Regions from separate parts of the Homo sapiens genome. Here all the other regions are linked to region 4. Evidence: fine-mapped expression QTL. A gene starts in region 4. Each other region holds a variant in brackets. All regions are shown on one strand. Distances are between the middles of the regions. Region 1 has its middle 32 kb from the start of CREBBP. Region 2 overlaps MGRN1 (mahogunin ring finger 1). Region 3 overlaps C16orf96 (chromosome 16 open reading frame 96). Region 4 holds the start of MGRN1 (mahogunin ring finger 1).

Evidence for each region. PIP is the estimated chance that this variant, and not a neighbour inherited with it, causes the effect.
Region 1: its variant is fine-mapped to the expression of MGRN1 in kidney cortex (GTEx, PIP above 0.99).
Region 2: its variant is fine-mapped to the expression of MGRN1 in whole blood (TOPMed, PIP above 0.99).
Region 3: its variant is fine-mapped to the expression of MGRN1 in whole blood (GTEx, PIP 0.93).

Annotation. Positions count from the first base shown.
Region 1 is chr16:3,909,026-3,917,124 of GRCh38, forward strand. No RefSeq gene overlaps it. Among named protein-coding and RNA genes, the nearest start is that of CREBBP, 32 kb to the left of the region's middle. The variant A/G (reference allele first, on the strand shown) is at 3,594.
Region 2 is chr16:4,681,184-4,689,282 of GRCh38, forward strand. It overlaps MGRN1 (mahogunin ring finger 1), which reads left to right. Exons shown (of 17, transcript NM_015246.4): 13 at 367-593; 14 at 1,640-1,763; 15 at 2,041-2,086; 16 at 2,660-2,749; 17 at 7,613-8,099. The coding sequence ends at 7,725. Among named protein-coding and RNA genes, the nearest start is that of NUDT16L1, 8.3 kb to the right of the region's middle. RefSeq lists an enhancer at 1,597-2,097. The variant C/T (reference allele first, on the strand shown) is at 4,460.
Region 3 is chr16:4,572,627-4,580,725 of GRCh38, forward strand. It overlaps C16orf96 (chromosome 16 open reading frame 96), which reads left to right. Exons shown (of 16, transcript NM_001145011.2): 3 at 2,083-2,163; 4 at 2,346-2,432; 5 at 2,548-4,009; 6 at 6,314-6,399; 7 at 7,389-7,499. Among named protein-coding and RNA genes, the nearest start is that of C16orf96, 20 kb to the left of the region's middle. The variant C/A (reference allele first, on the strand shown) is at 4,580.
Region 4 is chr16:4,620,108-4,628,206 of GRCh38, forward strand. MGRN1 (mahogunin ring finger 1) reads left to right here and starts at 4,719. Exons shown (of 17, transcript NM_015246.4): 1 at 4,719-4,941. The coding sequence starts at 4,854. RefSeq lists enhancers at 4,381-4,490, 4,448-4,978, 4,501-4,795, 4,979-5,508, 6,039-6,567 and silencers at 4,561-4,740, 4,981-5,210.

The DNA of each region.
Region 1 (8,099 bases), 710 kb before region 4:
GTGGATGCTGAGTTCCAGGTGACACTTGGATCGGGGCCAGGCAGCCCTCTTCCCCCGAAGCAGGGGATCCCTCTGCCCACTGTTGGCATAAAAGTAATCGGGGCTGTACGGACAGTGTGATGACCCTCCGCCCTCCCTTCTGGACTGAATGACTTGGGCTCCGACTGCTGGAATGTCCTGCGAATTGCCCGTGACTGAGGAGAGTTGCCTCATTCAAGGTCAAGGTCAAGTTCACATCCCCTTTCTGGGTTCTACTTGGAGGTGGCTGAGGCAGGGGGAGAATCTCAGCCTGTTCCCTGAACCCAGGTCTGAAGTGGAGGTTGGGTGAGGCCGTGCTCCGGCCTGTGGCACAGCCCAGCGTCTCCCGGGCATGTCCAGCTTCTGCACTTCCCCACGCGAGCTGACAAGGGCACCTGAGTAATCTCTGCATGCTCCTCTCCATCTCAGAGTGTTCGTCCTAGGGAGCCCTGTCTTTGGCAGTAGCCGCCCTTGTATTCTTTTTTTCTTTTCTTTTCTTTTCTTTCTTTTTTTTTTTTTTCTGAGACATAGTCTTGCTCTGTTGCCCAGGCTAGAGTGCAGGGGTACCATCTCGGTTCACAGTAACCTCTGCCTCCCGGGTTCAGGTGATTCTCCTGCCTCAGCCTGCTGAGGAGCGTGCCACTACACCTGGCTAGTTTTTGTATTTTTAGCAGAGACAGGGTTTCACCATGTTGGCCAGGCTGGTTTTGAACTCCTGACCTCAGGTGATCCACCCACCCCAGCCTTCCAAATTGCTGGGATTATAGGTGTGAGCCACTGTGCCTGGCCGCCTTGTATTCTTTTTTGCAGCTGCCAAAACAAATGACCACAAACTGGGTGGCTTAATCCACAGAAATTTATTCTTATACAGTTCTGGAGGGCTGAGGTCCAAAATCAAGGTGTGAGCAGGCCACGCCGCCTGCAGAGGCTCTAGAGGAGGGTCTGTCCTGCCTCTCCCAGCTCCAGGCCTTCCTGGGCTTGTGGCTGCATCTCTCCAGTCTGCCTCCGTCTTCACATGGCCTTCTCCTCGGAGTCTCTGTATCTGTCCTTCTCTTCTAAGGACTTGTCATAGGGCCCACTGTAATCCAGGATGATCTCATCGCGAGAGCCTCAGCTTAATCACATCTGCAAAGATCCTTACTCCAATAGGATCGCATCCTGGAGGTTCCAGGTGGACGTATCTTTTAGGGGAGGCCGCAACTGAGCCCTCGGCCGCAGTCCAGGCTTCTGTTTCTATGGCAACACTAAGAGCAACCGGTGAGCTCCAGGAAGGGCGGGGTCTTGGTTGCATTTGTCTCTGGGCCTCCAGGAGTTCCTCAGAAAGGGTGGCAACATGAATAGTCCCATCTGCCACCGCCGTGAACTGTCCTCTCTTGATGGTGCTGAGAGCAACATGCAGTGTGCAGGGAAGACGCAGACCCCACCCCCACACCAGCACCCCCAGTGCTGCAGCCAAAGGAGTTTCCAGCTCGGCCCTGCCCCTCTAGGGTGAGCAGGTGAGCAGGCCAGCTTAGGAGAGAAAGGAGGCCTGATGGCTTGGTTGGATGTCTTTTGAAACTTTTCTTTTTTTAAGACAGAGTCTTGCTCTCTTGCTCAGGCTGGATTGTAGTGGCTCAATCACGGCTCACTGAAGCTTCAACCTTCTAGGCTCAAGCAATCCTCCCACATCAGCCTCCTAGTGGCTGGGACTAGAGGCATGCACCACCACATCTGGCTAATTAAAAACAAACAAACAAACAAACAAACAAACAAAAAAACCCTGTAGAGATGGGGTCTCACTGTGATGCCCAGGCTGGTCTCAAACTCCTGGGCTCAAGTGATCCTCCAGCCTTGACCTCCCAAAGCACTGGGATTACAGTTGTGAGCTACCACATCTGGCGGTCTTTTGAAACTTTCTACCGAGGATAAAGAGTAACTATTTTCCACCAGGGAAGCTGTCAAGGTTGAAGTTTTAAGGGCTTCTGTGTGGGCCAAGCCAGTCACAGGTACCTTCCCAGGAATGTAGGGCCCTGAGATATCAACTGGGAGACAACATGTATGAGTCAGTATTCTCCAGAGAAACAGAGCCAATGGGATGTGTATAGATACACAGAAAGAGGTTGAGTATGAGGAACTGGCTCACATGGTTACGGAGGCAGAGAAGTCCCAAGATTTTCCATCTGCACGCTGGAGGTGTGGTTCCAATCCAAACTCAAATGACTGGGAATTGCGGGGCCCATGGGTTAAGTCCTTGTCTGAGTCCAAAGGCCTGAGAACCAGAAGCGCCAATGTCAGAGAGCAGGAAAAGAAGGATGTCCCAGTTGGAGCCGAAAGAATTCACCCCTCCTCAGCCTTTTTGTGCTATTCAGGATTGTACCTGCCCACCTGCATTGGTGAGGGTGATCTTCTATATTGAGTCTGCTCCAATTCAAATGCTAAGCTCTGCCGGACTCAGTGGCTCACACCTGTAATCCCAGCCCTTTGGGAGGCGGAGTTGGGCAGATCACTTGAGGCCAGGAGTTTGAGACCAGTCCAGCCGACATGGTGAAACTCCATTTCTACTAAAAATACAAAAATTAGGTGGGCATGGTGGCATGTGCCTGTGGTCCAGCTATCCAGGAGGCTGAGGCACAAGAATCACTTGAGCCTGGGAGGCAGAGGTTGCAGCGAGATGAGATTGTGCCACTGCACTCCAGCCTGGGTGACAGAGCAAGACTCTGTCTCAAAAAAAAAAAAAAAAAAAACATTTAGCTGGATGTGATGGCTCACACTTGTAGTCCCAGCTACTTGGGAGGCTGAAGTTGGAGGATCACTTGAGCTCGGGAGGTCGAGGCTGCAGTGAGCTGTGATTGCATCACTGCACTCAAGCCTCGGCAACAGATCAAGACTCTGTCTCTCAAGTCAAATCAGGCTGGGTGCGGCGGCTCATGCCTGTAATCCCAGCACTTTGGGAGGTGGAGGTGGGCAGATCACCTCAGGTCAGGAGTTCAAGACCAGCCTGGCCAACATGGTGAAACCCCATCTCTCCAAAAATACAAAACTTAGCTGGACGTGGTGCTGAGTGCCTATAATCCCAACTACTTGGGAGGCTGAAGCAGGAGAATCACTTGAACCCAGGAGGGGGAGGTTACAGTGAGCCAAGATCACACATGTGACAGAGCAAGATTCCGTCTCAAAAAACAAAAGTCAAACCAAATCAAATCAAAAGGCAGCAACTGAGAAAGACATTCATCTTCAAGGAAGATGCAGGTGGCTGCTGAGAGAGAGGCGGGTTTCGGCACGTGGCCATGTGTGCCTACTCATGGAAGTTCCCCAGAAGACCTTTGTTCGTGGAAGTGATGAGGCTGTGATTCCATTTGTGTGGCGCTTTCTCTCTTTGCCCCATGCCCCCCTCTCCCCTCTGTGATGTCCATGGGCAACGGGGGGCCTTGGAAGAACCTGGGAATGAGGCTGAGTCCCAGCCTGGAGCCTGCATCTCATTGCCTGTAGAGCGAGGCCGCTCTCGTCACCTCCTGCCAGTTGTCATGAGGCTCAGATGAGGTGATGGGGAGAGAGGATGCAGCACAGCAAACTGGGCTTTCGACCCGGGAGGGGCC[A/G]CGTGGCTCATCTACAGGCTTTGCCACCACTAGCAGGCAACTCTGGGCAAGCTGGGTTCTCAGAACCTGGATTTCCTCTTGCTAAGAAGTCGTGAGCATCTAAGGAGCGTAGGCGCTGCCCACCGAATGGTGGTTACCAGATCATGGAAAGCAATGAGCTCAGTGCCTAGTGCATAATGGGGGCCCTGCGTGTGAATCCTTTCCCTTCCTTAGGGCCACTCGGTGGTACATGAAGAAGCCATGAGAGCAGGGATGAGGCTGCCTTTGAGTGTCCTGGGCTGGGTGGCCATAGGGTAGACTGCAGGGGGCCCAGGTGGGGACCGGCATCCATGAACTGTGTCTTGGTCACCAACTCACTGTGAATGTATGGCTTCTACTAACTCTGAGGCACATGGATGTTTAATGACTTGCCCAAGCCCAGCCCCAGCTGAAACTGCAGCGTCCTGTCTACCGTGGGCTCTAAATGATGATGAAATCATGTTTGGTCCACAAGACTCATGACCCTTAGAATCCCTTAAACTGCAGCATGCATGATTTTGTGCATCCATGCACAGATGCGTGGACTGTCTAACAGTTCTCTTTTTGGGATAATTTTTTTTTTTTTTTTGAGACAGAGTCTCGTTCTGTCACCCAGGCTGGAGTGCAGTGGCGCAATCTCAGCTCACTGCAACCTCTACCTTTCAGGCTCACGCGATTCTTGGGCCTCAGCCTCCTGAGTAGCTGGGACTACAGACATGCACCACCATGCCCAGATAATTTTTGTGCTTTTTTTTTTTTTTAAGTAGAGATGTGGTTTTGCCATGTTGGTCAGGCTGGTCTTGAACATCTGGCCTCAAGTGATTCACCTGCCTCAGCCTCTCCCAAAGTGCTTGGATTACAGGCGTGAGCCACTGTGCCTGGCCTGCAATAATATTTAAAAAAAAAAAAAAAAGTAAGACTAGTCAATTGCAGCAGTAAGAATTTTTTTTTTTTTTTTTTTTTTTTTTTTTTTTTTGAGATGGAGTCTCACTCTGTCGCCCAGGCTGGAGTGCAGCGGCATGATCTCAGCTCACTGCAAGCTCCGCCTCCCAGGTTCATGCCATTCTCCTGCCTCAGCCTCCTGGGTAGCTGGGACTACAGGTGCCCGCCACCATGCCCAGCTAATGTTTTGTATTTTTAGTAGAGACGGGGTTTCACCATGTTAGCCAGGATGATCTCGATCTCCTGACCTCGTGATCTGCCTGCCTCGGCCTCCCAAAGTACTGGGATTACAGGCATGAGCCACCGCACCCAGTCTTTTTTTTTTTTTTTTTTTTTTTTGAGACGGAGTTTTGCTCTTGTCTCCAAGACTGGAGTACAGTGGCATGATCCCAGCTCACTGCAACCTCCGCCTCCTGGATTCAAGCGATTCTCCTGCCTCATCCTCCCGAGTAGCTGGGATTACAGGCGCGTGCCGCCATGCCCAGCTAATTTTTGTATTTTTAGTAGAGACAGGGTTTTGCTATGTTGGCCAGGGTGATCTCGAACTCCAGACCTCAGGTGATCCACCCGCCTTAGCCTCCCAAATTCCTGGGATTACAGGCATGAGCCACTGTGCCCAGCCAAGATTTTTATTTATTTATTTGATTTTTTTTAGAGACAGAGTTTCTCTCGGTCATCCAGCCTGGGGTACAGTGGCAAGACCATAGCTCACTGCAGCCTTGAATCCCTGGGCTCAAGCAATCCTCCTGCCTTAGCTTCCTGAGTAGCTGTGACTATACATGTGGACCACCACGCCCGGGCAGTTCTAACTTTTTCTCATAGAGACTGGGCACTAAGTTGCCCAGGATGGTCTCGAACTTACAGGCTCAAGCAATCCTCCCACCTCTTCTTTCCAAAGTGCTGGGATGACAGGCGTGACCCACTGTGCCTGACCAAGATAAATACTGAATGCTTAGCGCCAAATAGCAGATGAATAAGGAGGGCTGATGTCTGCAGGGTTTACCCCATTGCGTTGTACAACAGGCCTTGGCAGCCCTAAAACAAGCAGACGGGTTGTTTGTCACCGGGATCAGGAGACAGCAGAGCTTTGTCAAGCTGCCTTGCTGGGGTGAGCTGCAGTGGGAGTTGGACTCTCCCACGACACAGAGACGGATGCAAGATCCAGGACTCGCGCCTCCTTGGTGCTCTCCTGCTACCTGGTGGCCTCTTCTTTCCTTTAGTCCTCTGTCCCTCTTCCACTTCTCTCTGCCTCCTCCACCCGTTCCTGCAGGCGTCTGGCCATCACCTTCGATGGGTGCTTCTGTTCATCTTTACCACTCTGAACCCTCCAAAATAGCCCCCATGCAAACCAGGACGTATATGACCTCCCACGGGCAACAACAACAGCGGAGTTTACCTACTTCAATTGCAAGACGCTCCTTGGAGGGTAGAAACAGTTCTGGGACAAACGCATTTGATGTGAATGGGCCCCACTCTCTCCTGATCCACAAAGCTTCCTGTCCTGCCCTCTTGAGGGCCCTGACCTCATCCTTCCCTCTCAGTCCAGCCTCTCTCGGGAGTTTGACTTGTATGGTGCAAATTGAAGGCCCACATAGAGTAAGAATGGATCTTGATGGGGTCACAGCACACCTGGACTGATGGCGAGAAGTCCAGCCCTGTAGAAGTAGTCCTAGGGCCACACCATGACAATTAATGTGCAAAACGTGGCCACCCCTCTGAATGGTGACAATGGTGACAATAGTTGGACCATCCTCCAACAGCAGACACCCACTGAGTGCTTACCCTACCGGGAGGGCTGAGTCAAGCTCTCTCTACGCATGATCTTGTTGACTCCTCACAACCGCTCTGGGAAGTAGATGCCCCTATTCCCCTTTTACGAATGGATCACCCTAAGCTCAGGAACATATCCAAGGACAGCAGGACACCAAGGCCCATCCGATCTCACAGTGACAGCATTGAGTCCCACACCGCACAGAGGGCGGGGCTGGCACACTCCCCACAGCGTGGGGAATCTGCACTTAATTGCATAGCAGGGAGTGATCACACAAGTTCTGTCACATACCAACACTGCACGCCCCTCTGGCTCTTCCACCACGAAGCACGTCCTGGTGATGGACGCAGGGCAGGGAGAGGAGGAGAGAGGAGACCTCGGGTTCTGCCTTCCCCAGCCCCTCTCTGCTGGGCACATGGAGATCCACCTGGCAGTTGGCCCCTCTGGGCCTTGAGCCAGTCTGGCACAGGCAATGTACCGTTCGGTGGCATCTGGACCCATGTTTGTGCCTTAAGCATGACAGGTGGCCCTGGCTCAAACTTCCTGGGCTCCTTCTCCCTGTTTCCTGATGGGGGAAACCCTAGTTTTGGGCCCAGGCTGGGACCTGGGATGGACTCAGATGCTTTGGAAATGTATGTTGGGCTGGTGGGTCGGGCCTCACCAGAAGCTTGTGCACAGGCCAAGGAGCTTCCAGGAAATCACTCACCCGTGGAAGGGAGGAGCCAGGCCCAGTGAGCTGACCTGGAATAGTTAGTTACATGGCCTATCACATACCAACACCGCACACCCCTCTGGCTCTTCAGACCCTGTGGCATACGTAGCCAGGGAGCAGGAGGAACCTGGGGGTGCATATACGCCATAAGTAAAGATGAGCTGATTTACCCTATAAAACAGGGCACAGACACTGCTTTGGTGATGATAGTAGCCACCAGTAGTCCAGAGAGAGCAGATGCAGCCTGGTGAAGCCGTAGCAGCCAATTTGTTTGAGTGCACACATAGACACAGCCTTCAGTGACATCTTCTCAGGGGCTGTAGCAAGGTCAGGGTGAGAGCTGGCCGGGTTATGACTGCCTTCTTCCCATGAGGGCAGCATGCACCAGAGAAAGGACATGGGCTCTGGGGAGCTTGGTTCTTTTTTTTTTTTTTTTTTTTTTTTTGAGACAGAGTCTTACTCCCATCACCCAGATCACCTAGGCAGGAGTGCAGTAGCACAATCATGGCTCATTGCAGCCTTGACCTCCTGGTATCAAGTGATCTTCCTGTCTCATTTTTTTTATTTTTGGTAGAGACAAGGTCTAACTATGTTACCCAGGATGGTTTCAAACGCTTGGACTCGAGTGATCCTCCTGCCTCAGCCTCCCAAAGTGCTGAGATGACAGGCATGAGCCACTACACCTGGCCGGGAGCTGGATTCTAATCTCATTCGCACCACTTCCTTGTGTGTGATCTGGGGCAAGTTAATTAAAGACTCTTAAACTGGGATGTGAATGCCGCTGCCTGCTGTGGTTTAAAATATATCCACAACAAACTCTTTGATATTCCTCCCTTTAAGAGGTGGAGCCTCATCCCCTGCCGTTGAATGTGGGATGGAATTAGTGGATCACTTCTAAATGATAAGGCAGGGGTGACACTGTGTGACCTTGGGGACTGGTCATAAAAGGCCTGTGGGTTCCTACTTTTTCCCTCCCTTGCTCTCAGATCCCTCCTCTGGGGAAAACCAGCTGCTATGTCATTAAAACAGCACTGTGTTGGCCACTGGTGAAGACCAAACCCTC
Region 2 (8,099 bases), 61 kb after region 4:
GGCTTTGCTCTGCCCCCGCTCCCAGCTCCTGTCTGTCACTAACCCTTCACTCTCCACCTGGGGCCAGGCGGGACTGAAAGCCAGGGAGGGGCTGGTTGAGGCCAGGGCTGGGGCGGTTCTTGGCAGATGCCCTCGTGCCCGTCATCCCAGGCACCAGCGTGGGCATTTGGGCATCCAGCCCCGTGCTGGAGCTGATGGCTGAGGCAGGGAGGGCATCGGTGCTGCCAGGGAGCTCTTGGCCACCCTCTGAGGGTGGGGGAGTCTCAATCCCCCAAAGAACAGAGTGGACAGGAGGTCATCAGGAGGAGCGTCTGGGGAGCAGGTGGTCCCTGGGCATGAGCCCCCTCACGCACCCTGTCCCTACAGAACTCTGACAGCGTCCCACCTGGCTACGAGCCCATCTCGCTGCTCGAGGCGCTCAACGGCCTCCGGGCTGTCTCCCCGGCCATCCCCTCGGCCCCTCTTTATGAAGAAATCACCTATTCAGGCATCTCGGACGGCCTGTCCCAGGCCAGCTGTCCCCTCGCGGCTATCGACCACATCCTGGACAGCAGCCGCCAGAAGGGCAGGCCGCAGAGCAAGGCCCCCGACAGGTGAGCAGCAGCCAGGCCAGGTGCATGGCAGGGTGTGTGGTGGCGCGCGTGCGGAGCGGGTGTCTTTGTGGTTTCAAATCAGTTTGTGATGTGTTCTGTGTGGCGATTCCCCAGAAGGACTCGGAGACCCCGTATCAGGTTAGACTCATGGGTAAAGTTTATTACGGCAAAGAACGCAGCAGACGAGGCAGGAAGAGCGTCCGGGCAGCTGGAGGCTTTGATCCCCCGACCAGGGCCACACCGGCGTGCAGGCGCATACGTGCTCTCGAGCAGGAAACTGCAGGGGTCGGTGCTGTGTCTCTGCTGAGGGGAGCCCCTTTGAGCCTCTGGGTTCCCAGACTTCATTGGGGGGCTGGCCACGTAGGCCCACTCTGCCGGTGACCAGCCAGGGCAGCCGAAACTCAGGACCTGACAGTGACCCAGGCACACTCACTGCTCTTGCCGTTCGCCCGTGACGAGCCACGGGGCACGGTCCCTCTCCAGGCGATGAGTGCATCATCCATCACTCATACGACAGCCTTCGGAGGGCCTGGCTCCTGGGGTTGGCCACGGGTCATTCGTGGTTCCCCTGGAGCCTTGCGGTGTATAGAGCGGCGGCTGCCAGGGGGACTCTGTGCCTCAGGCCTGTCGGTTCTCGTAGAAGAGTGTCAGGAAGGCGCGGGTTCTGCAGGCCCGCCCTGGGCACCCTCCATGCCCACGAGGAGGCAGCGCCAAAGCTCAGAGAAACGGGGGCCTCTGTCTCCTGCTGCTTCTCCTCCCCAGGAACCACCAGCGGTTTCTCTTCTCCTTCTAGAAAGAAAAGGAAGGCTAGGCCCGTGCCAGTGTGTCGGGAGCCCCTCTGTCGGGCGGGTCTGTGGTGGCCGCTGTTGCCTGTTGGCCGTTTGGGTTGGTCCCGGTGGCTGGTGATGCCCTTCTCCAGGGAGTGTCCTTGCGTGGGTCCTGGCAGGCGTGTGCAGGGGCCCCCAGGTGCCCTGCATGGCTTTGGCAGGGTTAGCCTTCCTTGTCGTTATCCTCTCACCCCTGCCCACCCTCTCCTCTGTCCCCAGCACCCTACGGTCCCCGTCTTCCCCCATCCACGAAGAGGATGAGGAGAAGCTCTCCGAGGACGTGGACGCCCCTCCCCCACTGGGTGGCGCAGAGCTGGCCCTGCGGGAAAGCAGCTCCCCTGAGGTGAGGCCCCCCCGGGGAAGCTTTGCGCACCCGCCCGGGCCAGCCCTCCTCCAGCTTCTGTCGCTGGAATCAGACCCCATCCCACTGCCCGCCTGGGCGCCCCCGTGCTTGTTGGCTCTTGCTGAGCTGCGCGGCTCCTTAGCCTCGGTCTGTGGAGGCAGCACCCCCTGGTGGAGCGGCTGTGCGGTCCCGGGAGGGCCGTGCCTGATGGCGGCTTGTCCTGGAGCGGTGGCCGCGGCTCTCTGAGCTCTAGGCTACTTTCCCCTTTGTTTCCTAGAGTTTCATAACAGAAGAGGTTGATGAGTCGTCGTCACCACAGCAAGGTGAGCGCCTCCTTCCATGGGCACAAACCGCATGCAGGGACCAGGCAGCCCTGGCTTACTGGGGCCTTAGGGCTCCAGGTGGTGTTGGGCCAGCACCTCTTCTGCCCCAGGAACCCTCGGCCAAGAGGCCCCCCTCGGCGGCACTGGGATCCCGGCTGGGAGGGACTGAACGGGTGACTGGGTCAGGCTGCGCTGTTGACCCTGCAGGGCTGTCTGCCTGGGATGGGGAACACCTGCCAGCATTCAGTCCTGGTTTTGAAACATGAGCGTGTAATGTTTCTATGACCAAAAAAAAAAAAGCCCTATGCTCTGAACATCCAGGACACAGTGTAAAAAAGGGGAAAAAAAAGCCCCATGCTGGGGGATGGGAAGGAGGGAAATAGAAGGGAAACACCCAGCTTTGGGGTCCCTGGAGAGCAGGTGGGGTCACGGTGGAGTCCTGCTGGAGCACAAGCCTGGGGTCCCCACAGTGGCTACAGAGCCCTTGGGTAAGAGAGACGGCCTCCTGCCCAGAGGGACCTGCCGGGACCTGGCCCCTGCCTGTAGGTCCCTAACCTCACCCTCTGCCTGCAGGGACCCGAGCAGCTTCCATTGAGAATGTCCTGCAGGACAGCAGCCCCGAGCACTGTGGCCGAGGCCCACCTGCTGACATCTACCTGCCAGGTAAGGGGCTGGGGGTCTGGGGGTGAGGGGCTGGGTGCCTGTCTTAGTCCCCAGGGAGGGGGCCCTGCTCTGATGGTCGGTGCATAGCAGCAGAGGCTGTCCATTGGAGCCTGGTTCTCTCCCTGGCTCTCAGCCATGCCCCTGCTATTGACCGTGAAGCAGGATGCGGGCCAGGGCCATGGCCACAAAGCAGCCTCAGGCAGGGCCTGGCTCTTGGGAGCGGAACCTGCACCAAAGCCCCTTCCCTCCCTGGGGCCACATTGGCCACAGGAGGTGAGAGACGCGAGAGAGGCTGCCTGTGAGAGGATGGGGTCCTTTTCCCTCTGCCTGCTGCTCACGCCAGGAGGGCAGATCCGGCCCCACTGGGATCACCACATGTTCCCCCACTCCTGGTCCTATCGTGGGCCCACAGGCCCCATGCTGGGTGCCACGTGCGCTCCTGGCAGTGCCTGAGAGCTGCAGACAGAGCAGGAGCAGGTACCACACGCTGTGCTGGGTAGCGGGGGCCCTGGGCCACAGAGCGCAGGGGCAGTGTCTTCTGGGTCACCCTGCCCCGGGCCTGACAGAGGCCACCTGATGCAGCAGCACATCCCAGGCCAGGCACAGAGGACGGCGGGGGCGCCAGGCGCCAGCGGGGAACAGCAAGGCAGCAAGGCTGGGACAGAGGGTTGCTCTTCTCACCTTTCCCGGAGGCTCGGGCCCCAGACCCCATCAGCCAAGCACCTTCGTGCTCTGCTCTGCTGGGATAAGATCCTCAGTTTCGAATCCTAAGCTCTAAAGACCGGGAGGGAATGGGGGCTCTCAGACTAGTGTCTCAGCACCTGCCACGAGGCTGTCTGCGGCTCTGGAACTGCGATAAACAGCCACGGTGCTTTCAGACATGACCCCAGAGCCACTGCTTAGGGAGTGTGGCTCTTCCCTCGCGGCTGCCAGGCTTCACCCGCTTCCTGGCCCCAGGGCCCACCATTGCTCAATCCTCCTGAGTCACCTGGTGACCTGGGCCTGACATTGGGTGGTTGTGACGTGCTTTAGTTGGAAAGGGGCTCTTGTGCCCCCGGACTCTGGCTGAGCAGTGGCCTGTGCTCATGGGCTGGGCGTGACAGGTCGCAGGTGCAGGAGCAGGCACTGCCTCTGGTGCCCTGATGACCACAGCGGCCTGCCCCGAACAACTCACAGCAGAAGGTGTGTTTAGGACCAGCTTACCTTAAAGTGACACAGAATTCGAGTAAGGTCTTTCAGAGGATCTCAAATATTTCATTCTGATTAAAAACTTGGGGGGTGATCGGGGAAGAGGCCAGAAGGACCTCAGCTTCTGGGAGCCACGAACATGATATCTGATCCTGCAGGGTGGCCCTGTGGGGGAGCATCTCAGAGGCTGCGCCTCCCCTCTGTGGCCAGGCCTGGGAAGGATTGGGACAGCTACAGAGGAGGCCCACACAGAGGAGGCCAGGACTCCGAGTCTCATGCCCCACCCACAGGGGAGGGTCTCGGGCCTTCTTCAGGCCCACAGACGGGGGCAGGCAGTCGTCATCTGTGGAGGCGGTAGAGGAGAGGCCGAGTCTACATCGGGGCAGCCTGAGGTGAACTCCTGGGCCCTGGGCCCCGCTCTTGGAGTTGGCTGCTGCTGAATGCCAGCAGGTCAGCCTGCACGGCCTCAGTTCTGAGCCACGGAGAGCACATGTGCCTTTGGGGGCTGTTTGGCGCCATCTC[C/T]GTGGCTGTCAGCCTTGTCAGCACAGGTTTCTGTGTGTTTTTAAATCCATGTGGTGGCCCCTCTGTTCCACTGACTTTTTCACATCACAGAGCCCTTGACTGTCTATCCGTGTCTGTGCGTAAGGCATGAACACACGCCAGAGCCTTTGGTTTCTCATAGGGGTGCAGCCGCTGCCTGGCGGGGTGGGCGGCATCACTGAACCCTGCTGTCCCTGTAGATGGGAGGGCCCATGAGATGGTGAACACTGGGGGCCCTGGTGTCTTGGACTTGGCCCTGAGCTCGGTCCTGTCTAGCCTCAGCCCCCCACCCAGGGCCTTCACTCCTGAAACCAGAGGTGGACTGCGCCCGTTAGGTCCTTCATGCGCCCTTCCCTAGGCTGCGGCAGCGGGAGGTATGGGAGGGAGGGGCAGGGCCAGTGCGCTCCTCCGCGTTGAATTCTGGCTGCGCTCTGCCTCCCAGCTGTGGTTCTCCTTGTGGTTCTCTGTGGTTGCAGCAGAGTGTTTGTTTCTAGACGGCCTCGACCGTGTCCCCAAGCTGGTGCCCTTGCTGTGGCTGTGCTGGCTGCTGCGCGCTTGCTAACCGAGCTTCCGTCTGTCTCTCCCCCTCTCCGCGCAGCCCTGGGGCCCGACTCCTGCTCTGTTGGTATAGACGAGTAAGCCGGTACGTGACCTCCCAGACGCGCTTCGGGGGCTCTGACGCGCGTCCTTGGAGAGAGGAGCCCTCCCCTGCTCTCTGGCGGGGGTTCCTTCTGGTTTTTGGGTCTTCGTCCGCATCCGCATCTTCCCAGGGGCCCTGGATTCCGAATCCAGAGCTCTCCAGTGGCTGCTGCACCTTCCCCCAGAAAGTGGCCTCCTGGGGGGTCCTGACTTTCGGGGCCAGAGGTCTCTCCATCTGGACTAGGCGGCCGGTCAGGCTCTTCTTCCAGCCTTGAGGGGCCCTGGAACAGTCCCAGCCCAGGCAGGGAGACAGACACAGCCCAGGTGCGCCAGAGCCACTGTCCACTGCGGGAGGCAGGAGCTTGAGGGATGAGGGCAGCACCGTGGAGGGAACCCCAGGGAGACATGGGGTGAGCGTCCCAAGGGGAGAGGCCTGGGCCTGGCCTTGTTCCGGATGGTCCCACCATGAGTTCGCATCGGTCCTGCAGCAGACACGTTAGGACGCTCAGCAGGTCCACTCCCGTGTTCCGGTCGTGGCTTTAACAATTCATGGGGAAAGAATGCGCCCCGATTGGGAGAGCCCCTGGATCACGTCTTCCCAAGCTCAGTCCCTGTCTCTTGGAGGGAGTCCGTCCTCGAGGGGCCCTCTGGTGCCCAGGGGAGAGTATCTTGCGTCCTGTCCTGAGGGCGTCCGCTCACACAGCCACCTGCTCCCCCGCTCCCTCCTTCCCTTGTCAGCATGGCCACCGTGGGCCTGGCATCACCATGGGCCTGGCACACAGTCCCTCGTGGGCTGCCTTTGTGCCATGAGCCCACTGCTGCCGACTCACCTGTCCCTCCCAGTACTGGAACCTTCTGGAACACCAGCACTAAAAGATAGGAGGCCCTGTGAGGTTGGCATCCCCCATCCCCCCCAAGAGGCGCCCTCTACCAGGGTGGCCCAGGTGAGTGTTTTACAGAAGGCGGCTCTGTCCAGGCAGTGGTTCGCACCTATAAGCCCGGTACTTTGGGAGACCGAGGGGATAGATCACTTGAGCCCAGGAATTCAAGATCAGTGTAGAAAACATAGACCCCCTCTCTATGAAAAATAAAAAATTGGCTTGGGCGTGGTAGCTTGTGCCTGTGGTCCCAGCTACTCAGGGGTGCTGAGGTGGGAGGATTGCCGGAGCTGGGGAGGTCAAGGCCCACTCCAGCCTGAGACGCTGTCTCAATAAAAAAAAATACACACACACCCACCCACCCACTCCAGCCTGAGACCCTGTCTCAAGAAAAAAAAAATACACACACACACACACACACACACACACACGGGGGAGAGAGAGAAGGCAGCTCCAGGAGTGCCACCAAAATGTAGGCAGACGGATTGGGGACCCTCTGCCTTCCCAGAGGGTCTTGGCACACAAGCTGCGTGCAGCTCTGGTCTGCCGAGGCCCATGCAGCCTGCTGGGAGGTGCCTGGCCGGGGGTGCAGGCTCTAAGAGGCCCTTTCCCCTTGGGTGGACTTGAGCCGGGTCAGGGAGAACTTCGCTTCTTTTGACTGCGCTCTGCATTCCCATGAACCTCTGTCTTCTTGAGCCCAGCGAGTCCCTCTGTTGACCCCTGTCCTGAGCCATTATACCCCTAGATTGAAACAGTCAGCACCTTTCAGACGGCCCCGGCCTGCGCATCGGTGGAAGGTGCCGTGCGAATGTCACGATTCAGGTCAAGCTTCCGGAGCTGGGGAGTGCAGGTGTGATCTAGAACAGGGCTCACAGCCTCGGAAACCTGCTCTCGCCGCGGCCCCCGAAGAAAATAGACGCCCTTCACCGGAGAGTGGGGCCTGGGCCGTGTCTGCTGGGAGCCATGTGTCAGGGCTGGTGGCTGGGTGTCAGGCAGCCCTGAGGCCATGCTGGCCCCGTCCCAGGCTCTGCACCAGCACCATTGCCCAAGCCCCAGGGACGCCAGACCCATCTGGGGACAGCGCCCGGCGGCGTCGTGCAGGCCACAGTCTGGGCATTGGGGCTCTGTGGGAGGCTCCTCTCTTTGCCTTGCAGTAGCCATCCGGGGGCTACTCTGAGCACGGGCTTGTTCTCACCCAGGGCCGCTCCCCACCCCTGCACCCTGGGTTGACCGAGTTCCACCCTAACCCAGCCGTAAGAACCTTGGCAGGACAGTGGCTGGCCACATCCCAGGAAACCGGAACCAGGGCAAGGGCAGGAGGCCCAGAGGGCATCCACCGCGGTGCCGTGTCGCGCTCTGACTCGGGGCTGCAGATCTGCTGTGGGTGTCCGGGGATCTGGGATCGTCTGTCCCAAGAGGGACACAGCGTATTTGGCACAGTTAGGGAGTCCCCGGGCCCTTGGTGTGCTCACATCTGAGTGAATGCTGTTGTGGCCACAGGCGGCGGGAGTGGGGGTGCTGGATGGCCCAGCCCCTCTGGGGCTCCAGATCGGTAGGAGCGGGTGGCGTGGCACCAGGCATCCGAGTGTGACCCTCCTCCCTCTGCTCCCACCTGCAGGACGGCCCACCTCCATGGAGACGGCCCACGGCCTCGCCACCACCAGCCCCACCTGGCCTCCACTTGGTGGCCCCAGCCCCGATCCCAGCGCCGCCGAGCTGACCCCACTCTGAGAGCCTGGCCGAGCTGGCAGCATGGAGCCCTCGGCTCCCCAGACTTTGCCGAGGGGCTGCTCCGGACCCCGTTGTGAGCCGGCCTCCTGTCTGCATGCCCCCTGTGGCCACCAGGCTCCGAGGGGCCGTGGTGACTCTTGATCAAAGAGCACAGTGAACTGTCCCTTCTGAGTCTCCCTTTTCTACAGTTGATATATTTGTAACTGGTACAAGATGAAGGACAGCAGCTTTCCATCCCTAGTTCAGAGCCCCCGTTCCCCAGGGTCCTGTGGGCTGAGCGGCTGGGGCTGGGGCTGCCCACGTGTGGCCTCCGCTGGCTCTGCCTGCTCCTGCAACAGTGCGGTCCCTGCCCGGAGAACTCAGGAGGCCTGCAG
Region 3 (8,099 bases), 47 kb before region 4:
CCTCCCAGTTGGCTTCATTCTCAGGCAGGTGCTCCTCAAGTCTTGGCAACAGCAGACTTATATTCCACCAACCTAGCAAAAAGAAAACCTCTTCCCCTTCTGGAAAGCTCTGTCCACATGGAAAGTGGAATAATCATAATAGTGCAGGCATACATACAAGCTCCTTCTGTACTTCTGTAGCCAAAAACCATCAGCCAAGTATTTTCTAACACCCTACCATGCATGGAAGGACATGGAGTCCCCGAGACATGAGGCAGCTGTCCCCGTCACAACTGATGAGTCACAGCTGGGGTCTGAAGCCAGCTCTCCACACCCCCAGGTTTAACAACTTCCCCCAAATAGTGTAATTTTCTGTATCATCCCGGCTTCACAGATCAGGGCCTGTATTTGATCATCATGGCAACTGTGGGAGCTTTAGGCATGGGCTGGATGGCTCCCATCTAAGCAGAAAGAACGCTGTTAAAAGCTGCATCATGAGCTACTCAAAAGGGCCCCTTAGACAAAGCTGTTGGAGAAACCATGCCTTCTCGGCGGGGCCTGGTGTCTCACGCCTGTAATCCCAGCACTTTGGGAAGCCAAAGCAGGCGGATCACCTGAGGTCAGGAGTTCGAGACCAGCCTGGCCAACATGGTAAAACCCCCGTCTCCACTAAAAATACAAAAATTAGCTGGGTGTGGTTGCAGGCACCCGTAACCCCAGCTACTCAGGAGGCTGAGGCACGAGAATCACTTGAACCCAGGAGGTGGAGATTGTAGTGAGCCAAGATTGCGCCACTGCACTCCAGCCTGGGTGACAGAGCAAGACTCCGTCTCAAAAAAAAAAAAAAAAAAAAGGTGGGGTCGGTGGGGCGGCATGGTGGTTCACGCCTGTAATCTCAGCATTTTGGGAGGCTGAGGTGGGCAGATCACAAGGTCAGGAGATCGAGACCATCCTCGCTAACACGGTGAAACCCCATCTCTACTAAAAATACAAAAAATTAGCTGGATGTGGTGGCAGGTACCTGTAGTCCCAGTTACTCAGGAGGCTGAGGCAGGAGAATGGTGTGAACCTGGGAAGTGGAGCTTGCAGTGAGCCGAGATCACACCACTGCACTCCAGCCTGGGCAACAGAGTGAGACTCTGTCTCAAAAAAAAAAAAAAAAGAAAAAAGAAAAGAAAAACAATGCCTTATTGGCCTGTCTCTTGGAGGTGTTTTTGTTGTTGTTGTTTTGTTTTGTATTCTTTTTGAGACGGAGTCTCTCTCTGTCACCCAGGCTGGAGTGCAGTGGCACGATCTCAGCTCACTGCAACCTCTGCCTCCCGGGTTCAAGTGATTTTCCTGCCTCAGCCTCCTGAGTAGCTGGGATTACAGGTGCAAGCCACCACGCCTAGCTAATTTTTGTGTTTTTAGTGGAGGTGGGGGCTTCACCACATTGGTCAGGCTGGTCCCGAACTCCTGAACTCATGATCCACCCGCCTCAGCATCCCAAAGTGCTGGGATTACAGGCATGAGCCACTGTGCCCGGCCCTCTTGGAGATTCTTAATGTGCTTTTGCTCATTCAAGGCTCTGGGAAGTCCTGCCGTACAGAAACCTGTTGAAATGTTTTTTATTTATTTATTTATTTACTTATTTTTGAGACAAAGTCTCACTCTGTTGCCCAGGCTGGAGTGCAGTGGCGCCATCTCAGCTCACTGCAACCTCTGCCTCCTGGATTCAAGTGATTCTCCTGCCTCAGCTTCCTGATAGCTGGGATTACAGGCGCATGCCATCAGGCCCAGCTAATTTTTGTATTTTTAGTAGAGACGGTGTTTCACCATGTTGGCCAGGCTGCTGTCGAACTCCTGACCTCAAGTTATCCACCCACCTTGACCTCTCAAAGTGCTGGGGTTACAGGCATGAGACACTGTGCCCGGCCTGACATGCTTTCAAGCCCAGCATTTCCCAAACTTGTTTGCCCATGGAACCCTTTCCCACTCCTTGGGAAACACTGGATTTGGAACCCGTTCTTCCTTCTCAAGCTCTTAGTCACCTAGAGCCACGGGAAAAGGCAGGGGTGGGACAGAACCTGGACCCCCAGTCCACAGACTCAGTTCCTTTGACAGGTACACCCAGAAAGAATGGACATCTTTGCTGAAGACTTCAAAATACAGAACTGGAAGATGGTTGCACTGCAGCGGGAAGTGGTGAGGGCCACCATCCCTGTCTTCCCCCACTCCCCCTGGGACCCCCCAACCTCCCGGGTCCTGGGTGCTGAGGGTAGGGAGGTGCAAGGAGGAGAACACAGCCTGGAAAGGTTTCTTTGCAGGTGTGGGGGACACTGCCCCCTCCAGGCTCACAGCCCTCATTTTCTACCCCCACCTTGCAGGCTTCTCTCCAGAATAAGTTTAAAACCATCCCCAAAACCGAGGACATGGTGCTCTGGAGTGGCCTTCATGATGCCATGTTCACCTCAGTGAGTGAGGAAGGAAGGGGAGGTTAGCAGGAAGCTGGGGAGCAGGCGGGTGGCTGACTGAGAGTGGGAGGCGGGGCTGGAAGCCAGCAGAGCCCCTCTGCCCCCTCTTCTGCAGGAAATTGGTTCATCACCACTGGACCTGTGGCAGTCTGTAGAGCAGCTCCCAGAGGCTGCCCTGGCCCAGACCACCAAGTACCTTGAAGCTACTCGTGCCATCCAGGTCTCCGAGCCCGTCCAAAACCCCCAGCTACTGCAGACTGTCTGGCATTATGAGGTCCCAGAGCTCCTCCCGGAGGGCTCATCTGCCCAAGCAGTTTCACTCAGCAGAGCCCAGGAGCCAGCGCAGCCTCCGGCCCTCACGCCTGAGTCTGCACCTGGGTGCACAACTGAATTTGCACCTGGGCCTGCACCTGGGACTGAACCTGTGCCAGGACTGGAGCTGGGGCTGGAGCTGGAGCCTGTGCCTGCCCTGGGGCCTGTCCCAGGGCCCAGTGTGACACCTGGGTCCTTGCCAGCACCTTGGCCTGTGCTTGGACCTGTGCCTGCCCCAGGTGCCCAGCCTCCACCACTGGGAGACTGGCCTGCACTCCCAAGACGCTGGCCTCTTCCCCAAGGCTGGCCCAGGGTGGGCTCTTGGCCTCTGTGGGACTTAGGTGTCCTGCGGCCAACTCAGCCCCAACCCTCCAGGGCCCCACCACCAGCCACTGAGTTTGGCTCATTGTGGCCTCGACCACTCCAGCCATATCAGTCTCGCCAGGGAGAAGCCCTCCAGCTCGCAGCTGTCCAAGTAAAGGGGGAGGAAAATGATGTCCCCAGCCTAAGGGGCCTTCGGGAGAGGGCCCGCAAGGATGGGGCCCCCAAGGATAGAACTCGCAAGGATGGGGTCCCCAAAGATAGAGGTGGCAAGGATGTGGACCCCAAGGATAGAGCTCACAAGGATGATGTCCCCAAAGATAGAGGTGGCAAGGATGTGGACCCCAAGGATAGAGCTCACAAGGATGATGTCCCCAAAGATAGAGGTGGCAAAGATGGGGACCCCAAGGATAGAGTTGGCAAGGATGGGGCCCCCAAGGAAGCACAGCCTAAGGCTCCCCAGTCTGCCCTTCACCGGCTGAAAACCACCGCTGCCATCGCCGCCGCTGCCGCCGCAGCCTACGCCGCTGCCACATCCTCCGCTGCCCAGGCAGCCAAAGTTGCTGCCAAGTTTGTCAAGGATGCCCCAGCCACCAAAATGGCCGCCATTGCAACAGACACGGCTGCAGCTGGGCCCCTAGGGGTCTTTGCAGATGTCCTGGGTGCAGGGCCTTCCCGGGGAGCCACAGAATCCCAGATCTTGGGCGATGATTCCGAAATCTACGAAATCCTCTCTCCCTCCTACTCTGCTGCCAGCATCGGTCCCGATCCAGCCCTGTCCCAGGCCATGGTGGCTACCAAGCAGGCCATGAGCCCTGAAGACAAGAAGAGGGCTGTCAAGTATTCCATGAGCCACATAGCCCAGATACCTGTCAAACACGACTCTCTGAAGGAAGAATTTGCCCAGCTGTCCTGTAACCTGAACCAGCGCTTGAGTTATCTAGGTAGGCCTGGTCTGGCCCTGGGAAGGGCACAAGGGAGTGGGGCTCTCCCTGCAGCCTTTGAGAAGTGTGTCCTGTCCTTCACTGGGCTCCACCAACAAAATCTGCATTCCACCATTAGCCATTCTTTCCTTTGGCTTAAGCATTTGGCTCTTAACGAGTCTATTCTTTTCTGTTGAATGTACAATGAGGTCTTATCTTAGGGCAGGGAGGCTGTTAGGGTCTAAAGTTGGCACGAGGAAAATGGCATGCCAAAATTACTCTCAAAAACTCTTGTGGCCAGGCGTGGTGGCTCCCACCTGTAATCCCAGCACTTTGGGAGGCTGAGGTGGGCGGATCACCTGAGACCGCAAGTTCAAGATGAGCCTGACCAACATGGAGAAACCCCGTCTCTACTAAAAATACAAAATTTGCTGGGCGTGGTGGTGTATGCCTGTAATCCCAGCTACTCGGGAGGCTGTGGCAGGAGAATCGCTTGAACCCAGGAGGCAGAGGTTGCGGTGAGCCAAGATCATGCCATTGCGCTCCAGCCTGGGCAACAAGAACGAAACTCTGTCTCAAAAACAACAACAA[C/A]AAAAAAAACTCCTTTGTGATAGCCCATAAAACAGTATTGTATTGGCTAAGCATGGTGACTCATGCCTGTAATCTTAGCACTTTGGGAGGCCAAGGCAGGAAGACTGCTTGAACTGGAAGTTCGAGACCACCCTGGGTAACATCAAGACCTCATCTCTAAAAAAATTTTTAAACACTAGCTGTGTGCGGTGGCTCACGCCTATAATCCTAGCACTTTGGGAGGCCAAGGCAGGCAGATACGGAGACCATCCTGGCTGACACGGTGAAACCCCGTCTCTACTAAAAATACAAAAAAATTAGCTGGGCATGGTGGCGGGCGCCTGTAGTCCCAGCTACTCAGGAGGCTGAGGCAGGAGAATGGCGTGAACCCAGGAGGCGAAGCTTGCAGTGAGCCGAGATCGTGCCACTGCATTCCAGCCTGGGCGACAGAGCTAGACTCCGTCTCAAAAAAAAAAAATTTTAAACATTGGCCGTGTGCGGTGGCTCACGCCTGTAATCCCAGTCCCTTGGGAGGATGAGGCAGGTGGATCACTTGAAGTCAGGAGTTCGAGACCAGCCTGGCCAACATAGCGAAACTCCGTCTCGACTAAAAATACAAAAGTTAGCCAGGCTTGATAGTGCGCGCCTGTAATCCCAGCTACCTCGGAGGCTGAGACAGGAGAAACACTTTGAACCCGGGAGGCAGAGGTTGCAGTGAGCAGAGATTGTGCCACTCCCGCCTGGGCGATAGCGAGACTCCTCCTCAAAACAAAAAAAAAAGCCTGAGTGGTGGCGCAGGCCTGTAGTCCCAACTACTCAGGAGGCTGAGGTGGGAAGATTGCTTGAGCCTAGCAGTTCAAGACTGCACTGGGTTATGATCGTGCCACTGCACTCCAGCCTGGGCAACAGAGTGAGACCTTGTCTCCATACAAACAAAATTTAAAAAAAAATTTTTTTAATTATTGTTATTATTTTTTGAGATGGAGTTTCACTTTTGTCGCCGGTTGGAGTGCAATGGCGTGATCACAGCTCACTGCAGCCTCCGCCTCCTGGGTTCGAGAGATTCTCCTGCCTCAGCCTTCCAAGTAGCTGGGACTAGAGGCATGTGCCACCAAGCCTGGCTGATTTTCGTATTTTTAGTAGAGATGGGGTTTTTCCATTTTGGCCAGGCTGGTCTCAAACTCCTGATCCCAGGTGATCCACCTGCCTCGGCCTCCCACAGTGTTGGGAGTACAGGCGTGAGCCACTGCACCTGATAAAAAAAATTTTTTTTAATTAATTTAAAAACTAATAGGCCGGGTGCGGTAGCTCATGCCTGTACTCCCAGCACTTTGGGAGGCTGAGGAAGGCGGATCACGAGGTCAAGAGATCGAGACCAACCTGGCCAACATGGTGAAACCCTGTCTCTACTAAAAATACAAAAATTAGCTGGGCGTGGTGGCGTGTGCCTGTAATCCCAGGTACTCGGGAGGCTGAGGCAGGAGAATTGCTTAAACCCAGGAGGCGGAAGTTGTAGTGAGCCGAGATCGCGCCACTGCACTCCAGCCTGGTGACAGAGCGAGATTCCATCTCAAAAAATAAATTAATTAAAAAATAATGAAGAAATAAATAAAAAGGTACCACAAGCTGCGAGGCCCAGTGCATTTCCACTGGGCAGTGCTGCCTGAGATGCTCCATAAGAGAAGCAGCTAGAGCCCAACAGAAACATCTTCCTCCATCCGAGCCCTCAGCAGCCACCCTGTCCTCTGCTTTCAGCCAATATGGGAGGTCCTTCCAGCCTCGGGACAACAGTGGACATATTGCAGAAAAAGATTGGCAGCCTCCAGAAATCTAGGCTCAAGGTTAGTGTCTCCGGCGAAGGGCTTTTGAGGCAGTGATGGCTTGAGGTGAGCTGGCTGAAGACTCCTTGACTCTGCCCCCCTCCCAGGTGCAGCTGTGTTCTGCAGCAAAACAGGCTGGGGGAAAGCGAGCTGGCTGCGAAGGCAGCTGCTGCCTCTCAAAGCTGATTCACTGGTGCGGTGGGGGGGCCCAGCAGGTGTGGGGCTACACGGTTCTGTGTCTCAGGTGGCTGTTCAGAGGGCAGGTGAAGCCGGTGCGGTGGCTCATACCTGTAATCCCAACGCTTTACAAGGCTGAGGCAGGCAGATCACTTGAGCTCAGGAGTTCAAGACCAGCCTGGGCAACATAGTGAGATCCCTTCTCTGCAAAAAAATACAAAAATTATCCAGGTGTGGTGGTTTGTCCCTACAGTCCCAACTACTCGGGAGGCTGAGGTGGGAGGATCACTTGAGCCTGGGAGGTGGAGGCTGCAATGAGCCAAGATCACGCCGCTGCACTCTAGCCTGGGTGACAGAGCAAGGCCCTGTCTCAAAAAAAAAAAAAAAAAAAAAAAAAAATGGCAGGTGGAAGGCACCCTGGTCTGATACCTTATTTTTTTTTTTTTTTGAGACGGAATCTTGCTCTGTCATCCAGGCTGGAGTGCAGTGGCGTGACCTCAGCTCGCTGCAACCTCTGCCTCCTGGGTTCAAGCAATTCTCCTGCCTCAGCCTCCCTAGTAGCTGGGATTACAGGGGCCCGCCACCACACCTGGCTAATTTTTGTATTTTTTGTAGAGACTGGTTTCGCCGTGTTGGGCAGGCTGGTCTCGAGCTCCTGACCTCAGTTGATCTACCCATCTTGGCCTCCCAAAGTGCTGGGATTACAGGCATGAGCCACCACGCCCAGCCTGGTCTGGTACATTCTTCTTGGCCTCAACCCTCCCTCAGGCCCCTTCCCGGCCATGGTAACTTCAGAAGCAGAGGCCTGGGGTGTCTGTGTCTCCCCCTTTTAGGAGGAAGAACTTGAGAGAATTTGGGGCAACCAAATAGAGATGATGAAGGATCGCTACATCACTTTGGACAAGGCGGTGGAGAACCTGCAGATTCGCATGGATGAGTTCAAGGTTAGGAGGACTGGGTAGGCTGGAGAAGGGCTGGCAAAGGGAGAATTCCTCACCTAGACCTTCTGGCCCTTCCCGAAGGTTCTGCATGAGGTGGGGATGCACTTGAGGCTGGGAACCAGTGGGGCTTTACTGGCATTTTACTGTGTGTAAATTACACTTCAATGAAAAGCAAACGAATCCCACCACCCCCCCCCACCCATATAAACAGAAGGGCCGGGACAATGTTCGTCTTTTTGACCACTGCGTCACCTGCCCCTGGAAGGGCAGGGGTAGTGAAGGCTCCATCACATTTGCTGAATGACTCAGTGAATGATTAAGAGAACTTCTTGTGCCAACTGTTACATTCTTAACATTTCCCTGAGCCAAGAGGTAGAAATATTTACTGACATTTTGGGCTGGGTGATAAAAATAAAAAAATAATAATAAAAAGAAATATTTAGGCTGGGTGCGGTGGCTCACATATGTAATCCCAGCGCTTTGGGAATCTGAGGTGGGAGGATCACTTAAGACAAAGAGTTTGAGACAAGCCAGGGTAACACAGGGAGACCCCATCTCTACACAAATAAAAAATTTAGCTGGGACTGGGCGCGGTGGTTCACG
Region 4 (8,099 bases):
AGAACCTGGAGCAGCCTAATCCCTCACACTTTGCCTGGCTGGCTATTAATTGTATTTCAAGTCCTGGTTTAGCAACCGGCCGCGGTGGCTCACGCCTATAATCCCAGCACTTTGGGAGGCCGAGGTGGGTAGATTACCTGAGGTCAGGAGTTCAAGACCAGCCTGGCCAACATGGTGAAACCCCATCTCTACTAAAAATACAAAAATTCGCTGGGTGTGCTGGCACGCGCCTGTAGTCCCAGCTACTCGGGAGGCTGAGGCAGGAGAATTGCTTGAACCCAGGGGGCGGAGGTTGCAGTGAGCTGAGATCGCTCCACTGCACTCCACCTCGGGCAACAGAGTGAGGCTGCGTCTCAAACAACAGCAACAACAACAGCAACAAAAAATAAATCAAGTCCTGGCTTAGCTGTCACCTCCTCAAAAAAACCCCTTCCCTGACTCCCCTGCCAATAGTGTCAATTAATTGCATCTCAACGTTTTCTGCAGAGCACCCACCACATTCTGGAATTATATACTTGTTAACCTTTCTAGCGTCTATTTCCTCACCTGCCTGCAGCCTCCATGTCTAGCTTGTCCTACCATTTGATGCCTGTTGCCTGGTTCATCACCTGTCACATAGTAGCTGCAGGATAAATATTTGTTGAATAAATCAATGAATTGGCCAGGCATGACGGCACACGCCTGTAATCCCAGCACTTTGGGAGGCCAAGGTGGGGGGATTGCCTGAGGTCAGGAGTTAAAGACCAGCCTGGCCAACGTGGTGAAACCCTGTCTCTACTGAAAATACAAAAATTAGTTGTGGGTGCCTGTAATCCCAGCTACTCGGGAGGCTGAGGAAGGAGAACCGCTTGAACCTGGGAGGCGGAAGTTAAAGCGAGCCGAGATCCCACATGATCATGCCACTGCACTCCAGGCTGGGTGACAGAGTGAGACTGTGTCTCCAAACGTAAATAAATAAATGAATCCAGGCCGGGCACGGTGGCTCACGCCTGTAATCCCAGCACTTTGGGAGGCCGAGGCGGACAGATCACCTGAGGTCAGGAGTTCGAGACCAGCCTGACCAACATGGAGAAACCCCGTCTCTACTAAAAATACAAAATTAGCCGGGCGTGGTAGCACATGCCTGTAATCCCAGCTACTACGGAGGCTGAGGCAGGAGAATCGCTTGAACCCGGGAGGCGGAGGTTGCAGTGAGCCGAGATTGCACCATTGTCCTCCAGCCTGGGCGACAGAGCGAAACTCCATCTCAAAAAAAATAAAATAAATAAATAAATAAATAAAAATAAATGAATCCACTCAGATGTTGATAATGGAACTTGGACCAAATCGGGAAGGGCCTGTCTTCCATCTGGGTGTGGGTAAGCACAGAAAAATACTGCTGAAAGGGCTTTGAGGACACCTTGAGTCCAAAGCTCTGTTGAGAAGAAGAGTTAATGAAACATCCACCTGGTGGAAATGACTGCTCTGGCACAGGCTCCATAGGGAGGATATGCTCTTAGTGTTGTTTTTCAGTGGGAACAGCTGATGCTCAGGACTCTCCCTTCCTCCCCGCAAATGAGGAGGGCAGTCAGTTGAATGCAGCGTTGATACACAAATACATGTACATGTACGTGAGTTACGTGATTCAATGGAAAGAAATATAAAATGAAGAGAGATCACAATGGGTGGGGGGCTTCAGGCCCATCCATCTGGGGGCAAGAGCCTGGCAATCTGGCACTCTGGAGCATGCCTCTGTGGAGGCAGGGACGTGCCCAGGTAAGAGCAGTGGCCTGGCTCAATTCCAGCTGTGCCACCCACCTACTGTGCAACCTCATTAGGGTACTTCATTTTTCTGAGCCTCACTTTACTGTTTTGTAAATTGGTAATAGAAATAGAATCTACATCAGATTGTTTTTCTGTGACAGAGTCTTGCTCTGTCGCCTAGGCTGGAGTGCAGTGGCGCGATCTCCGCTCACTGCAACCTCCGCCTCCCAGGTTCGAGCAATTCTCCCATCTCAGCCTCCCGAGTAGCTGGGATTACAGGCACGTGCCACCACACCCAGCTAATTTTTGTTTTTAGTAGAGACGGGTTTTTGCCATGTTGGCCAGGCTAGTCTCCAACTCCTGACCTTGAATGATCCGCCCACCTCGGCCTCCCAAAGTGCTGGGATTCCAGGTGTGAACCATTGCACCCGGCCAGATAATTGTTTTTTAATTATTATTATTTTTGGAAACAGAGTCTCGCTCTGTCACCCACACTGGAGTGCAGTGGGGCAATCTTGGCTCACTGTAACCTCCACCTCCCAGGTTCAAGCGATTCTCCTGCCTCAGCTTCCCGAGTAGCTGGGATTACAGGCACATGCCACCACACCCAGCTAATTTTTATGTTTTTAGTAGAGATGGGGGTTTTGCCATGTTGGCCAGGCTGGTCTTGAACTGACCTTGGGTGATCCGCCCACCTCGGCCTCACAAAGTCCTGGGATTCCAGGCGTGAACCATTGTGCCTGGCCAGATAATTGTTTTTTAATTATTATTATTTTTGGAAACAGAGTCTCGCTCTCTCACTCCCACTGGAGTGCAGTGGCGCAATCTGGGCTCACTGTAACCTCCACCTCCCAGGTTCAAGCGATTCTCCTGCCTCAGCCTCCCCAGTAGCTGGGATTACAGGCGCGCACCACCACGCTCAACTAATTTTTTGTATTTTTGGTAGAGACAGGGTTTCACCATATTGGCAAGGCTAGTCTTAAACCCTTGACCTCAAGTGATATGCCTGCCTCGGCCTCCCAAAGTGCTGGGATTACAGGCGTGAGCCACAGTGCCTGGCCTGTTTTTTTAATATTTTATTTTTTAAAATTTTTATCCTTTTTAGAGATAGGGTCTCACTCTATCACCCAGGCTGGAGTGCAGTGGCATGATCATGGCTCACTGCAACCTCGACCTCCCAGGCTCAAGCTATGCTCCTGCCTCCACCTCCAGAGTAGCTGTGACTACAGGGGCGTGCCATCACACCTGGCTAATTTTTACATTTTTGGTAGAGACAGGGTCATGACATGTTGCCCAGTCTGTTCTGGAACTCCTGGGTGCAGGCTATCTGCCTGCCTCGGCCTCCCAAAGTGTTAGGATTACAGGTGTGAGCCACTGCGCCCGGCCAACATCAAAGAATTATATGAGAGGATATGTGCAGAGCCCTCAGCATGATGCCTGGCACATAATGCTCAGTAAGTGTGGATCTTGGTTGTGGGGCAGGGAGATTTAATCAGGCTCCTCCAAGACCTGGACCTGCATCATAATCACACAAGTCTCTTGGCTGCCGTACTCATTTGGCTTCCCAAGTTCCCCTGACAAGAGGAAGTCTGAGGCCAGGTGCAGTGGCTCATCTCTAATCCCAACACTTTGGGAGGCCAAGGCAGGCGGATCACTTGAGGACGGGAGTTCAAGACCAGCCTGGCTAACATGGTGAAACCCTGTCTCTACTAAAAATGCAAAAATTGGCTGGGTGTGATGGTGCATGCCTGTAATCCCAGCTACTGGGGAGGCTGAGGCACGAGAATCGCTTGAACACGGGAGGCAAAGGCTGTAGTGAGCTGAGATTGTGCCACTTCTCTCCAGACTGCGCGACAGAACAATTTAAAAAAAAAGAGGAAGACTGGATCCTGGACTGTGGTCTCTGGAAGGGTATAAGAAGCATTTCCACATGGACTGTGGTGAATTGACCATTGGAGACTCAGTCTGCCTTGCCCTCCCTAGCTGCTTTCTTGGTACAGCAGGCTTGACTTGGGAAATCACTCTGCTCAGAATCCAAGTTCCTCAACTGAAAAGTAGGTAAAAAGCGATCTATTTGCAGAGCTGTGTGTGACTCAAAAGCCAGGGAACACCTTGCACACTGCGAGGTTTTCATTCTGAAAGCGATTCTTGCAATCTTGCCCGCAGCGCCATTTCATGCGGCTCTCTCTCCTCTGTGCCTCAGTTTCCCTGTGTGTAAAATGTGGGAGAGTCTACTGCCTTCCGTGGAGGCTGTGAAATTATGTCTTTAAACTAATTGGTCCAGACGTGGGGCCAAAGTATCGGGATTACAGGTGAGCCACTGCACCGGGCCTCAGCCTTGTCAGGGGGCCGGAGGTTGCTTAACCCCCTGGATCCCAGCTTCCTCATCTGTAAAACGGGCTGATGCCTATACAGCTCTCAGAACCACACCTGGTTCAGAAGTCCCCAAATGGTAGTCCTCAAATTCTGGCCAAGGCCAAAGCAGGTGCTTCACTTCTTCCGTGCACACCCTGCAAGTGGGCTCCGGGTGGCAGGTGCAGCTACGCCCTCTGCCGGTCGGGGCGGGAGACAAACTCAGGGGAGTGGGGAGAACCACAGCGACTCAGGGAGCTATTTCAGAGGGGGCAAGTGGAAGGCGCTGGGGCTCCAGGAGAGTCTGTAAGCGAACAGATGAGGAAATGACCAAAGAGTTAATATGTTAGTGCAGCGCTTGGAACGCAGAGGGAAGGACCATTTGCCCTGTGGTTGGTTGGTTCCTTCCCTCTGAATTTAGGTCCATTTGGTTTGTCCCGGAGTGCTTGTCAACCCGTCAGAGGGCCTGGGAACGGAGCATCCTGGGAAAGATAGTTCCCAGACGGGCTTCCCGCGCTGCTTCCCGGCGCCTTCGGCGGCGAGAGGACTCCATTTCCCGACGTGCCCCGGGACCGGGAGGCGGAGGGCCGCCGTGGCGTCGGTCCCCGGGCCGAGCCGGGGGTGGGGGCTCGAGGCGCCTCCGCGGCCGTGGACGAGCGTCCGTGCGGCCTGGTCCGGGCCATGTCCGCGTGAGGACCCCGCCGCTGTCGCCGCTCCCGTTCCGGCCCTGGCCCCTCTGCCCGGCAGCGCCGCGCACCATGGGCTCCATTCTCAGCCGCCGCATCGCGGGGGTGGAGGACATCGACATCCAGGCGAACTCGGCCTATCGCTACCCTCCGAAGTCCGGTGAGCGCCCGGCCCCAGGCGCGGACTGCTAGGCACGCGCTGGAACGCGGACCCGGCGGGCGCGGGGGCGGGGACTCGGGGCGGGGCGCCCTGCTCGGCCCCCTCCGGGCCTCGTTGCTACCCCGAGCCTTCGCGCGGCCCCACGGCCCCGATCCCTAGGCGTGGCTGGGGGCCCCGGAGGAACCTGCCCGAGCCGTACCTGGCGCTGCTACTGCCCGGCTTGGGTGACCTTGGGGCAGTCCCTTCGCCCCGGGCACCTCAGCTCCGTCCTTGCAACAGGGGGGAGCTCCTGGGGGAAACCCCGAGGGCGGGGCGGGGTGCTGAGCGCGGGTCCCGGCGCATCGCTTCTGCCTAGAAAACTCTCATTGTCATCAGATTGACCTCACCGCGGGGGCCGGCTTTCGCTTTCTTTAGTGGCTTGGTGTGAAGGCCGAGCCAGTGGTTTGGGCAATTTCCCTCCCATCAGGACGGAGGCTCTTGGTGTGTGGGTTGGAGGAGTGGGGCTGGGCCCAAGGAGACGATTATAGTTGATCGGGAGGGGCCAGGGTCCTTGCTGAGAGGACCCAGCCGATACTCGGGCCTCTGTGTTATGGCTGAGGGACGTAAGACACCAAGGAGGAAGTGACTGCCAAGATCTCAGCTGGATGGAAGCATAGTTGGGACCGGGACCAGCTGTGGGGCTCCCACGTAGCTTTGTTCCCAGCTCTCTTTCTGCCTCTATTGATGAGTTATGTGTTGACTGGGAGCATCTAGCTCCAAGTCTCACCCTCCATCTCCTCGTGGGGTTCTTTGTGGTGGAAAGGAGAGAAGGAAGAGGAGAGAGAACTTGGGCATCATGGGGACATCTAGATTGGGTCCTCAGATCCTGGCGTCTCATCTGATCTGATGTCTCAGTCTCCTGGGTGTCTCCGGACACCCACAGGCCAGATTTCTCTGAGTGTGGGCCAGGTCCACAAGTGGGGGAGGACTGCTAGACATGCCAGGGCCTGCCTGGGACCCCTTGGGGCCTGGGAACCTGCATTTTCAACCCATTCCCCATGTGAGTTTTACGTCCACTCAGGTTTGAAAAACTGCTCTGCCCAGGTTTTGTAAGGTGTGACTAGGTGAGGGCCTGGGGCCACTGGGATGAAGTGAGGGGAACCAGCACAGTTTGGGGGCACTCTGAAGGGGATGGACTCAGAGCTAGGCAGAACGCACTGTTGCCTGCCTGCTGGGGAGAGCACAGCTGTATCCCAGGCCCAGCAGCGGGTCAGCCTGGCCTTTGGGTGGTTCCACCCTGGGGTTTCCCTAGAGGTTCCGAGGGCTGATGGCCCTACATCAGATGGAGCAGTTTGCTGTTGTCCTCTTTCATCTCTGATATTCTTCCAGCCTGCCTCTGGCTGAGTGACCTTGGTCGAGGTTGCTTAACCCCCTGGGTCCCAGTTTCCTCATCTGTAAAACGGGCTGATGCTTATACAGCCCTCAGAACCACACCTGGCTCAGAAGTCCCCAAATGGTAGCTGCTACAATTGCTCATAAAGGAAGATAAGTGACTAGCTAATGACCATAATCATAGTAAGCAGTGGCATGACACAGATATCAAAAAGTTGAGTGGCACTTCCTGTCACCTGGGACCTGAGCTCACTTGATGTCCGTTCTTCACTTGGGCTGAACAGAATAACATACATGTCATTTACAGCCCGCTTCGGGATCCCACTGTGGCTGAAATGTCATTGCTAATCACTCGTGGCCCTCCCTCCCACTGAGCATCCATCGCAGAACACTCGCGTCAGCCACTATTGGTTGGCACTGGCACCCAGGTGCAACCCATCAGCTAGCTGCCTGGGTCATGTTGCCAGTGCCAGCAGTGTTCTGCGCCCATCCAGTCCACAGGTCCTCTCCAGCTGTGCTTTTTCCCTTTCTCTTCTCCATCCTTCCCTGGGGCCTTGCAGATACTTGTTCTTCTCTTTGTTCATCTCTTCTGGTCCTTGCCTTTGTGCCGCACTGGTTTCCTAGACTCCCCGCCTCTCCTGTCTCCTTAATGAGAACTCCGTCAGGTCAAGGGTGGGAGGCAGGCCGGGCCTCAGCAGCATTTTGGTGTGTTTCCCCAAGGGCAGACCGGGGACCGTGGAGACATTTGAGATGATTTTAGGGGTTGCCCCCATGGACCATTCAATCACCCGATGAGAAAGCTTTCTTTTCACATCTCTGTCAATTTTGTTGATTATGTCAAGGAGAAAGAGTCACTGGGTGGTAATATATGCATTTTTAACACCTAACACTGTCCATTTTTCTTAAGGGAACTTTCAGCATGTTCTGCAGCAGCGCTCAGCTTGAATTTAATATTTGCTTTGTTTTCACTATATCTGTTTTACTCTTCATAGCTTTATTGAGATGTAGTTCATGTACCACACAACTCATCCATTGTAAACATGATTTGATGATTTTTAGTTAAATTATAGAATTGTGCAGTCGTCTGGCCAGGCGCGGTGGCTCACGCCTATAATCCCATCACTTTGGGAGGCCAAGGCGGGCGGATCACAAGGTCAGGAGATGGAGACCATCCTGGCTAACACGGGGAAACCCCGTCTCTACTAAAAATACAAAAAAATTTAGCCGGGCGTGATGGCAGGCGTCTATAGTCCCAGCTACGCGGGAGGCTGAGGCAGGCTGAATTGCTTGAAGCTGAGAGGTGGAGGCTGCAGTGAGCCGAGATTGCGCCACTGCACTCCAGCCTGGGTGACAGAGCGAGACTCCGTCTCAAAAAAAAAGGCTGGGCGCGGTGGTTCACGCCTGTAATCCCAGCACTTTGGGAGGCTGAGGCAGGTGGATCACAAGGTCAGGAGATCAAGACCATCCTGGCTAACACCGTGAAACCCCATCTCTACCAAAAATACAAAAAATTAGCTGGGTGTGGTGGCGGGCACCTGTAGTCCCAGCTACTCAGGAAGCTGAGGCAGGAGAATGGTGTGAACCCAGGAGGCGGAGGTTGCAGTGAGCCGAGACTGCGCCACTGCACTCCAGCCTAGGTGTCAGAGTGAGACTCCGTCTCAAAAAAAAAAAAAAAAAAGAATTGTGGGTGGGTGCGGTGGCTCACGCCTGTAATCCCAGCACTTTGGGAGGCCGAGGCAGGCGGATCACGAGGTCAGGAGATCGAGACCATCCTGGCTAACACGGTG